Homo sapiens: one gene and its partners. Changing the gene in region 2 together with the main gene of any one other region gives a genetic interaction. Each region holds a gene or a part of one and is shown on either strand. Other genes may lie near its edges. The genes, in order: PSMD1, NEMF and PAFAH1B1.

Region 1 (3,820 bases), on a different chromosome or scaffold from region 2:
AACCGTTGTTTTCTTACTTGTTTCCTTATTTTTGAAGGAAGGGGATAACACACAGGCAAGGCTTTGAATTTTCTGACACATATTTCAACCAGAGTTGTAAATTCAACTAGTTATGTAAGATTTGATACAAAGATTTTATAGTGTAAAAAAATGCTTGAAAACTGTTGATGTAGTAAATGAAAGAAGGGACTGCATACCCTTCAGACATGTGTTTATCAGACTTTGGATTCATAGTACAGAGAGCTCAAGGGCATGTTCTGTCAGGAGTGTGCAGTGCAGATATTTCACATTGCTGATTAGTAGAAGGTCTGTATTATTCACTTGAACACTTACAAGGAGGAAGTTGGTATTCTCTTTTAGAAATTGGGAAGTCCTGCACAAGGGGGTTGATAGAGGTACCATCAACTGTCCTTGGGATTCTGTGTTCATGTTTTTAAAGTTTTTGCTATGATGATGTGAAAATTTTGCAAGTTACTTTATTGCTGTTGGAGGCTCATTGAATTGAGCTGTCATCTGTGAATCCAGTGGGAAGAACTGATGGCTTAAAAGGATGGACCGTATTATTTGAAACTAGACTACTTTCTTCACTTTAAGCTAGAAGCAGGGGGTGAAATACCTTACTTATCTCTTTTATTTGATGGATTTTTTTTTTTTTGAAAACAGGGCAGGATCTCACTGTGTTGACCAGGGTGGTCTCAAACTCCTGGCCTCAAGCAGTTCTCCTGCTTTGGCCTCCCAAAGTGTTGGAATTAACAGGCGTGAGCCACCACAGCCAGCCTTTTTTTTTTCTTTAATGAAGGTTTATGGTTTTTTACAACAGTGATCTACAAATGCTTAAAATGCCACCATTGTACAAATTGTGCTTTTAAACTGGACTGTTGGTATGAAGTGCTATGGCATGGTAGATGCCTTCTAAACACTGTATCATTTTACCTTTGGAAGGTGAGTTTTGATCAGTAGACCAGTTCTGTTTGCATTTATTTATTTAAAAGTGGGGTTCACCCTTCCTCTAGTTTTGTAGGGCACATTTTTTAAGATGTCAGTGAGATTCATGAGGGGGTATACAAAACAGAATTTGGGTAAGGCTTCCTAGCGTCTTAATGAATATCGTAAACAGTACCTCCAGAAAATCCAGGACTCATAAATCTCCAAGTTATGACAAGGCTTTAGCAGGAAATGAGGCTGAGTTTTAGTTATAACATAAACCTGGGATATATTTATGACATATATGCAAACCTGGTGAATGAGAACATGAATCTCATTTGAAACCTGGGACATACATTTTTCCCCTTCAGTTATATAATCTAAGGAAAATTCCCCAAATGTTCTAATTTTGAGGTTCCTCTCTGATGGGGTAGGGGTAATGTTTCCTCACTTAGCTACAGTTGGTTCAAAAAGCTCACATTAGGGCCTGGTGGACATTTTCAACAACTGGAATTCTTTAAGGTCTATTTTGCATTATAACATCCACTGTGTTTTTTTGTTTGTCTGTTTGTTTTTTGGCAGTTTTTCTCTGTTGCCCGGGCTGGAGTGCAATGGCACGATCTTGGCTCGCTGCAACCTCCACCTCCCTGGTTCAAGTGATTCTCGTGCCTCAGCCTCCCAAGTAGCTGGGATGACAGGTGCACACTACCACACCTGGCTAATTTTTGTGTTGTAGAAATGGGGTTTTGCCATGTTGGCCAGGCTGGTCTTAAACTCCTGGCCTCAAGTGATCCACTTGCCTCGGCTTCCCAAGATTTTGGGATTACAGATGTGAGCCACTGACCCAACCCACTATGTTCTTATTAACTGTACCTGAACCTTCATGGTTCCAGCTGAATCTTGAATGTAGTATATTCCAATTTATAAAAGTCCTCTGCTTCCTTCAAGATATAGACCCATTTAACCCGGGTCATCTAGTAGGCCAACAATCATTTATGCTAGTTAAAATTATTTTTATTTCTTGGGGCTATGGTTTGTAACTAATAAATCTTGCCCTCGTCTTCTTACTTATCTTTGAAAGGGAAAGAAACAAGCCAATGAATTATGGAGAGGATAATTAATGTATATGTCATTCCTCTTGGGTGACTGGGTTTTTTGTTTTTTTGTTTTTTTTGTTTTTTTGTTTTTTTGTTTTTTGTTTTGAGACAGTCTCGCTCTGTCTCCCAGGCTGGAGTGCAGTGGCGCGATCTCGGCTCACTGGAACCTCCACCTCCCGGGTTCACGCCATTCTCCTGCCTCAGCCTCCCGAGTAGCTGGGACTACAGGCGCCCGCCACCACACCCGGCTAATTTTTTTTTTTTTGTATTTTTAGTAGAGACGGGGTTTCACCGTGTTAGCCAGGATGATCTCGATCTCCTGACCTCGTGATCCACCCGCCTCGGCCTCCCAAAGTGCTGGGATTACAGGCGTGGGCCACCGCGCCCGGCCAGGGTGACTGTTTTATCTTCCTTATGAAGGTGGAAGGCTTAGGGAAATGTCCTTCTTTTGGTTGTACTTAGAAAGTTTAAGGTGTGATTGCAAAGATATAACTAAATTGCAAACAAATGTTTCTTATCAGGTGTGCTATTGATATCCTTCAGTATGTCACACCCTCCCCTCCATGCACCCAAATCATTGTGAAATATGGAAGCTAAATTGGGCACAAACACTTTTGCATGAATTTTCAGACACCTTCTTGGGAGAAATAGGTTCCACCTACCTCACATTGAGACAATAAATAGAGTCAGGAATCACATAATGACAGACTGCATAGACAACAGATGTCCCATAAGAGTACAATACCATATTTTTACTGTACCTTTTCTGTGTTTAGACACAAATGCTATTGCCTATAGTATTCAATACACTAATATGCTATACAGGTTTGCAGCCTAGAAGCACTAGGCCATACCATAGAGCCTAGGTATGTAGTAGGTTATATAACATCTAGGTTTGTGTAAGTTCACTCCATGATGTTTGCACAATGATGAAATCACCTAAAGATGTGTTTTCCAGAATGTATTACTGTCATTAAGCGACACAGGACTGTTTTTCAAAGGATCTGCTACAGTTGCTGGAAAAGTTTTTGGAAATCTTTGGAACTGCCTTTTAAACTTGTGGCACATTTCAAGTCATTTCCCCATTACCCTACAGAGACAATTTAGACATAGTTCTTACTCTCAGGTTGCTAATAGTTTCATTAATGCAAAGAAGTCCGATATACTACTATGTGATAATTGCTATAATAGGCCTTTTAAAATATCTTCAGTAATGGCAAATGTTTGTTTTTTGAAAGTGAAGCAGCAGCTATTTGTAGCCAGTTCTTTTGAATAAGCAGCTTAATCGGGTAGAGTAATAAAATTTTGATCAAAATGGAGTAACAAGATAGAAACTTTAAAAATAAATTAAATAAGAGACAGGGTCCCATTGTGGTGCTCAGGCTGGCGTTGAACTCCTGGGCTCATGTGATCCTCCTGCCTCAGCCTGCCGAGTAGCTGGGACTGTGGGTGAGCACTACCACACCTGGCAGATAGAAATGTTTTGAATAATGTCAACTGGATTGGAATTAATGTGTAGTTCTCCGGTGTAAATATTATGGGAGAACAGTATTCAAATGCATAAGTTCTAGCATTTCAAAATTTGCTTATTGCTTTATAGTCATCCCATAAGTATATATGATTATAAATATAGGCATTGCCCTTTCTGATAGTTTAGCCCAATTTACAAGATAATCAGTTATTTTATTTCCTCAACAGCAAAATGCATTGATCACTACACCAAACAATGTGTGGAAAATGCAGATTTGCCTGAAGGAGAAAAAAAACCAATTGACCAGAGATTGGAAGGCATCGTAAAT
Region 2 (2,603 bases):
GCTAGGTGTGGTAGCATATGCCTGTAGTCCCAGCTATTCAGGAGGCAGAGGATGTAGTGAGCTGAGATTGCACCACTGCACTCCAGCCTGGGTGATAGAGCAAGACTCTGTCTCTTAAAAAAAAAAAAAATACATGGGGAAAAAACAAGAACTGTCAATTAGACTTGCAGTAGCACTGTATAACAAAGATGAAGAAATCAAATCATCCAAAAAAAGCTTATTAAACACTGATAATTTTCTCTTGTTAATCTCAGAACAAAATGCTAAAGGAAATGATACAGTCAAAATTCATGTTCAAAGCCTGCATTTTTTCCCCAAGTATCTAAACCAAGTATAGTCATGCAAGTAAGACTTCATTTGCACAAATGATCTCTCCATAAAACTACCAGGCTTTCTGAGACTTTATAGTTTACTCAAGCAGGGCTTTCACCATCCCTCAGACGTTCTGTGTAAGGCCAGTTGGCCCTACCTATGGAAGAAGAAGGCATATACTACTCAGCTCCCATACGATTTTTATTGCTAACAAAGACCTAGAGAACAGATCGTTCAGTTCAAACTCCTCATTGCATAAATGAGAACGACCAGAGAGAGAAAATAATATCCAGATAAAATAGATATTGATTGATCTGCTTTTGCTACTTTCCCTTAAGATTTTACTTCTCGCCATGATGTTTTGGTCTGAACTACCTTAAGATCGCTAGTCTTTATTTCATAGCTCTATTCTGTAGTATAAAATGGCCAACTGGTGTTCTGGGTGGCTTCAAACTCGTTTTTGTTTTAAATGCAGGTTATGGCACACAGCTTGTGCCAGCGATGAAGGAGAAGTAATTGTTTTTGGTGGATGTGCCAACAACTTGCTTGTCCATCACAGAGCTGTAAGTATACTACCTTCACATTATTACTGAAACTTACTTGCAAAGCATTTGCTTTTAAATGTGTTCTTCCTATTTATTTTTCAGGCACACAGTAATGAAATACTAATATTTTCAGTTCAACCAAAATCTCTTGTACGGTAAGTAACTTTGTACTTGGCACTTAGATTATTTAAAATTGTGTTTCCTAAGACTTAGCACTCTCGAAAAACTAGGTTTATGGATTATTTAAGGGCAATAAAACTTCATTGCTATAACCAGTTCCTATGAAAATCTTTGAAGAAAGAAAGAGGGATGTTTTATGTAGTTTTTCAAGTGAATGTACTTCCAAACAGTAAAGTGAAATTACTTTTCTCTTTCCTTGTCCACTTTCAGGCTAAGCTTAGAAGCAGTCATTTGCTTTAAAGAAATGTTAGCCAACTCATGGAACTGCCTTCCAAAACACTTACTTCACAGTGTTAATCAGAGGTTTGGTAGTAACAACACTTCTGGATCTTAAGGCTTCATAAATAATGCCTATGATCACCTTGCATGGACAGCAATCCTGTAAACATCACAGAGTGGCATCATTTGTATAATTATATGCATTGTTGTAGTTTGCACCTGTTGGTTTTAATGTGCATGTGAATGGCCTAGAGAACCTATTTTTGTGTCTAAAGTTTACAATAAATGTATTTAACACCAGTAGCTGTCCTCTATTAAAGTAAAGTAATGGTTGGGCTTTTTACCCTGAAGAATGGTTGCTACATTTTCTTTTCAGTAACTTCAGGATATGTATCTGTAGAAACATTATAGTCTTACCATCATCAAAATGCTGAAGTCATTTTTTGAAAACATTATAGATTTTTTTTTTTTTAATGGCAAGAGTAGTCTATAGTTATGTAACCTAGTGTTGTAAATACAATATAATAAAGGTTTTTTTTTTTAAACATTAATATTCACATTATGACGAAGCTGGAAAAACAAAGTGTGGAGGGACCAACAACTGTTCAGTACTTTGACCTTAATGCTTCAGTGTAGGGGCTGGAGCAAGTGGTCATGCTGAATACAGGCAGGTGCTGTCCAGTCAATTAAAAAGTTTTTTTTTAATTAATAGGTTTTATAGCTCATGAAGGAATGGAAATAATGATGACATCATTTTCCATTCTGTTAAGAGACAGAGGAAAAGTGGGTTAGAGTCTTTAGTGGTAAGCCTAAAATGCGCTTCTGGTATTATAGGTTAAGATACTCTAACGTGCTATATTGGTAATTAATTACTAAAGGTGGAAATTAAAATGGTACAGAACTGAATCAGATTACAAGGAAAAAATTAAGATCAAACCTGAAGGTCTACAAATGAATAGAAATGATTAAGCTGAGTCATGAGAATTATTACTTATATTTTACATTTTGGTCTAATATTTTTTTCTGACAAGTATCAATGAAAGCAGAAGAAAATCCACTCCAATACTTAGTTTTCAAGACACAATCCTAAATATTTAAACCCCTTGTAGCTGGCCTATAATATATATATATTAGATGTTATATACAGTAGACTTACCAAGTCAATAGTTTAAGCAATCAAGCCACTTCACTGTTCAGTTTCTTTACATCATGAAATGAATACTTGGTATTAACCTCCCAAATTTCAAGAAAATGTAGAATAACTACAGATGTATATAATTAGCATTTAACTGTCCACAAATACTTTAGGAAATCCTATCATAGTGTTTCCTCTATATAAAACTGGGA
Region 3 (3,655 bases), on a different chromosome or scaffold from region 2:
CACACTTAAAAGTATTTCCAGCCATATTGGAAAAAAGCTATGCTCTACTAATCTGAGTAAAACTAGTAACTTTGTACTACAAAAATCAAGTGTAATTCTATGCACAACCAAATTCAGCCTAACAGAGGTATACCAGCACAAAGATTATTTACTTTTTGTTTTTTTTTTTTGAGACGGAGTCTCGCTCTGTCGCCCAGGCTGGAGTGCAGTGGCGCGATCTCGGCTCACTGCAGGCTCCACCTCCCAGGTTCACGCCATTCTCCTGCCTCAGCCTCCCGAGTAGCTGGGACTACAGGCGCCCGCCACCACGCCCGGCTAATTTTTTGTATTTTTAGTAGAGACGGGGTTTCATCGTGTTAGCCAGGACGGTCTCGATCTCCTGACCTCATGATCCGCCCGCCTCTGCCTCCCAAAGTGCTGGGATTACAGGCGTGAGCCACCGCGCCCGGCCAAAGATTATTTACACTTTAATTTAAACCCACAGAGAGATCACCTAAAAGAAGACCACAGAGGAAATAAGCCATTACACAGAAATGCTTCTCAAGGACATAGAGTCTCTCCTTACAATGTCTCTGTGCTCCTTTTTGGGAGACATGTACAGATCAAACTTAGTTTTAAAGTATATTTAATATGACTGTCATAATGATCATTCCGGGTTAAAGTCGAAGTGACTGCAACACCAGAACACAATTTTGTTTTTTATAAATATGTCTTTAAGCTGATGCCTTTTCTTTTTTTTTGAGACGGAGTCTCACTCTTGTTGCCCAGGCTAGAGTGCAATGGCACGATCTCGGCTCACTGCAACCTCCACCTCCCAGGTTCAAGTGATTCTCCTGTCTCAGCCTCCCAAGTAGCTGGGAATACAGGTGTGCGCCACCACACCCGGCTAATTTTTGTATTTTTAGTAGAGATGGGGTTTCATCATGTTGGCCAGGCTGGTCTTCAATTCCTGACCAGGTGATCTGCCCACCTTGGCCTCCCAAAGCGCTGGGATGACAGGTGTGAGCCACTGCACCTGGCCGCTGATGCCTTTTCAACTAAACTTACTTACCCAGTTTGCACTTCCCACATTTTTATAGTTTTATCCCTTGAGGCAGACACTATATGATCTCCATTGGGCATGATGGCTACTGAAGAAACATTGTGGTCATGGCCTAAAACACATAACAGCAATATATTATGAAGTAATATACCACCAAGAGCAATGAAACATCAATTGACCATGGGATTTTACCATGGGGTTTCACTATGTCAAAGCAAGTTCTAAATACACTGGATTTTATACAAATTGGATAAGAAACCTGGATTTACACGATAAAGTTAAAAAAATCAGTAAAACAACAACCCACAAGGAAATAGTCAACTCCATTTAGGATTAAATTTCAACCTGTACAAATGGTTTAAAAACAAAAGGCATCACGATTATCAACATTTGAATATATTCATATACTTACCTCAGTGAGTCTGAATGTTTACATATGAACGCTAGGGAAACATTTTTTTTTTTTTTTTTTTTTTTTTTTGTGAGGCAAGGACTTGCTCTGTTACCCAGGCTAAAGTGCAGTGGTGCAATCATAGCTCACTGTAGCCTTGAACTCCTGGGCTCAAGAGCTCTTCCCGCCTCAGCCTGTCGGGTAGCTGGAACTACACAGGTGTGTACCACCACATCTGGTACCACCACACCCACAACTATTTTATTTTTTGTAGAGACAAGGTCTCCATATTTTGCTCACACTGGTCTCGAACTCCTGTCCTCAAGCAATCCTTCCTGCCTTGGCCTCCAAAAGTGCTGAGATTATAGGTGTGAGCCACTGTGCCTAGCTTCTAGGTTGATATTCTAAGATATAAAAAAGATAAAGCAAATGGATACAAAAAATGGGGAATTGGTTCTCTGTTTAAAATGGTGGGCCAGGCGCAGTGGTTCATGCCTGTAATCCCAGCACTTTGGGAGGCCGAGGCGGGCGGATCACCTGAGGTCAGGAGTTCAAGACCAGCCTGGCCAATATGGTTAAACCCTGTTTCTACTAAAAATAAAAAAGTTAGCCGGGTGTGGTGGTGCTTGCCTGTATTGCCAGCTACTTTGGAGGCTGAGGTGGGAGAATCATTTGAACCTGGGAGGTGGAGGTTGCAGTGAGCAAAGATTGTGCCACTGTACTCCAGCTTGGGTGACAAAGCAAGAGGCCATCTCCAGAAAAAAAAAAAAAAAAAAAAAGGTGGTGTTGGGGGTAAAAAAAAAAAATGCATTAGAAAGAACTCTTTTTAAAGTTACAGCTAGAAGATACAGGCAACTTAAAGAAAAATAAATGATAGACCTTACGTGGCTCACGCCTATAATTCCAGCACTTTGGGAGGCTGAGGCAGATCAGGAGGTCAGGAGTTCGAGACCAGCTTGACCAACATGGTGAAACCCCGTCTCTACTAAAAATACAAAAATTAGACGGGCGTGGTGGCGCGTGCCTATAATCCTAGATACTCAGGAGGCTGAGGCAGGAGAATCACTTAAACCTGGGAGGCGGAGGTTGCAGTGAGCCAAGATTGTGCCACTGCACTCCAGCCTGGGCGACAGAGTGAGACACAGTCTCAAAAAAAAAACAACCAAAAAACAACAACAAAAAAACAGTGTTCATGCGTGGAATTCCTGTAATTATAAACTTCCCCAATGCATTTAATTTGGGACAGAGAAAACACAACCTTCAAATTATGCCCTCTAGGTAAACACAGTTTACTCATGTGTTAACGTGTTCCTTGTACAAAATCCCAACATTCAAATGTCATCATGTATAAAGAAACAACAAAAATCCCTAAGTAATGAGCATCTCCTATGTGGCAGGTACTACACCAAGATGATTTATCTTATGACTTCATCTTATCCTCATGACAACTCTATGACTCTGGTATTATTACCTCTGTTTTGCAGATGAAAGAGGTTTAAATTTTCTAATACCGTAAGTAGACAAGTAGGAATTTGAACCCAGGTGTCTGACTCCAAAGCAAATTACTCTCTTTCCACAAAACATACTGCCTCAGAAAACAGTTCCCACAACAAGACCCGGGAAATAATGAACGAGGGCATGGGGTCTGTGCGCTCAGCTCATTTCACTTAAGTGAGCAAGAGAATCTGGGCTCGTTTTCACTCGACCTACTCTCTCTGGACTTCAGTTTCCCAACTAACAAAAATTAAAACACAAACAAAACCATTTTTAACTCAAATACAGATAAATGACCTGGCAGTTTTTCTTACCAAGAAATACTCATACAAATATTTTATGTAAAGTACTAAAAGATACTTAAAACTTCCTAATAGAAAGCACTCTCAACTACTGTGGCTTATCCCTGGACTATCTACATGGTATGCTCTTCCACCAATACTGACAATTAAGAGGTGAATAAAGGAACACTGTACACTGTTAGAAACAATATTCCTTCTGAAGTACCATGATAGAAATTACTGTTAAAGCACTATCCTCTACCCCTTACCGTGCATGGTTCTGATGCATTCAAAGCCCTGAAAATCCCATAGTTTAATGGTCATATCTGCAGAACAGGAAGCCAGAAGCTTGCCGCTGTGGTCGAATGAAATGTCCTGTACAGAGTCTGTATGTCCTTTAAGAGTTCGTTCAAAATCTCCAGTCTCATAATCCCACACCTGTCAAGT

What was found.
Region 1: changes in NEMF (region 2) and PSMD1 together harm fitness less than expected from each alone (positive genetic interaction), as found in Homo sapiens cells (one large-scale study listed by BioGRID).
Region 3: changes in NEMF (region 2) and PAFAH1B1 together harm fitness more than expected from each alone (negative genetic interaction), as found in Homo sapiens cells (one large-scale study listed by BioGRID).

What each region holds. Positions count from the first base shown.
Region 1 is NC_000002.12:231,063,187-231,067,006, forward strand, and holds part of PSMD1 (26S proteasome non-ATPase regulatory subunit 1), read left to right. Parts: intron 1-3,719; coding exon 3,720-3,820. UniProt on the Homo sapiens protein: Component of the 26S proteasome, a multiprotein complex involved in the ATP-dependent degradation of ubiquitinated proteins.
Region 2 is NC_000014.9:49,781,583-49,784,185, forward strand, and holds the end of NEMF (ribosome quality control complex subunit NEMF), read right to left. Parts: 3' UTR 1,372-2,603; coding exon of another isoform or gene 1,248-1,371; 3' UTR 1,013-1,247; coding exon of another isoform or gene 960-1,012; 3' UTR 876-959; coding exon of another isoform or gene 788-875; 3' UTR 501-787; downstream 1-500. Other genes in the region: KLHDC2 (kelch domain-containing protein 2), read left to right, coding at 788-875, 960-1,012, 1,248-1,371. UniProt on the Homo sapiens protein: Key component of the ribosome quality control complex (RQC), a ribosome-associated complex that mediates the extraction of incompletely synthesized nascent chains from stalled ribosomes as well as their ubiquitin-mediated proteasomal degradation.
Region 3 is NC_000017.11:2,670,154-2,673,808, reverse strand, and holds part of PAFAH1B1 (platelet-activating factor acetylhydrolase IB subunit beta), read right to left. Parts: intron 3,647-3,655; coding exon 3,478-3,646; intron 1,155-3,477; coding exon 1,052-1,154; intron 1-1,051. UniProt on the Homo sapiens protein: Regulatory subunit (beta subunit) of the cytosolic type I platelet-activating factor (PAF) acetylhydrolase (PAF-AH (I)), an enzyme that catalyzes the hydrolyze of the acetyl group at the sn-2 position of PAF and its analogs and participates in PAF inactivation.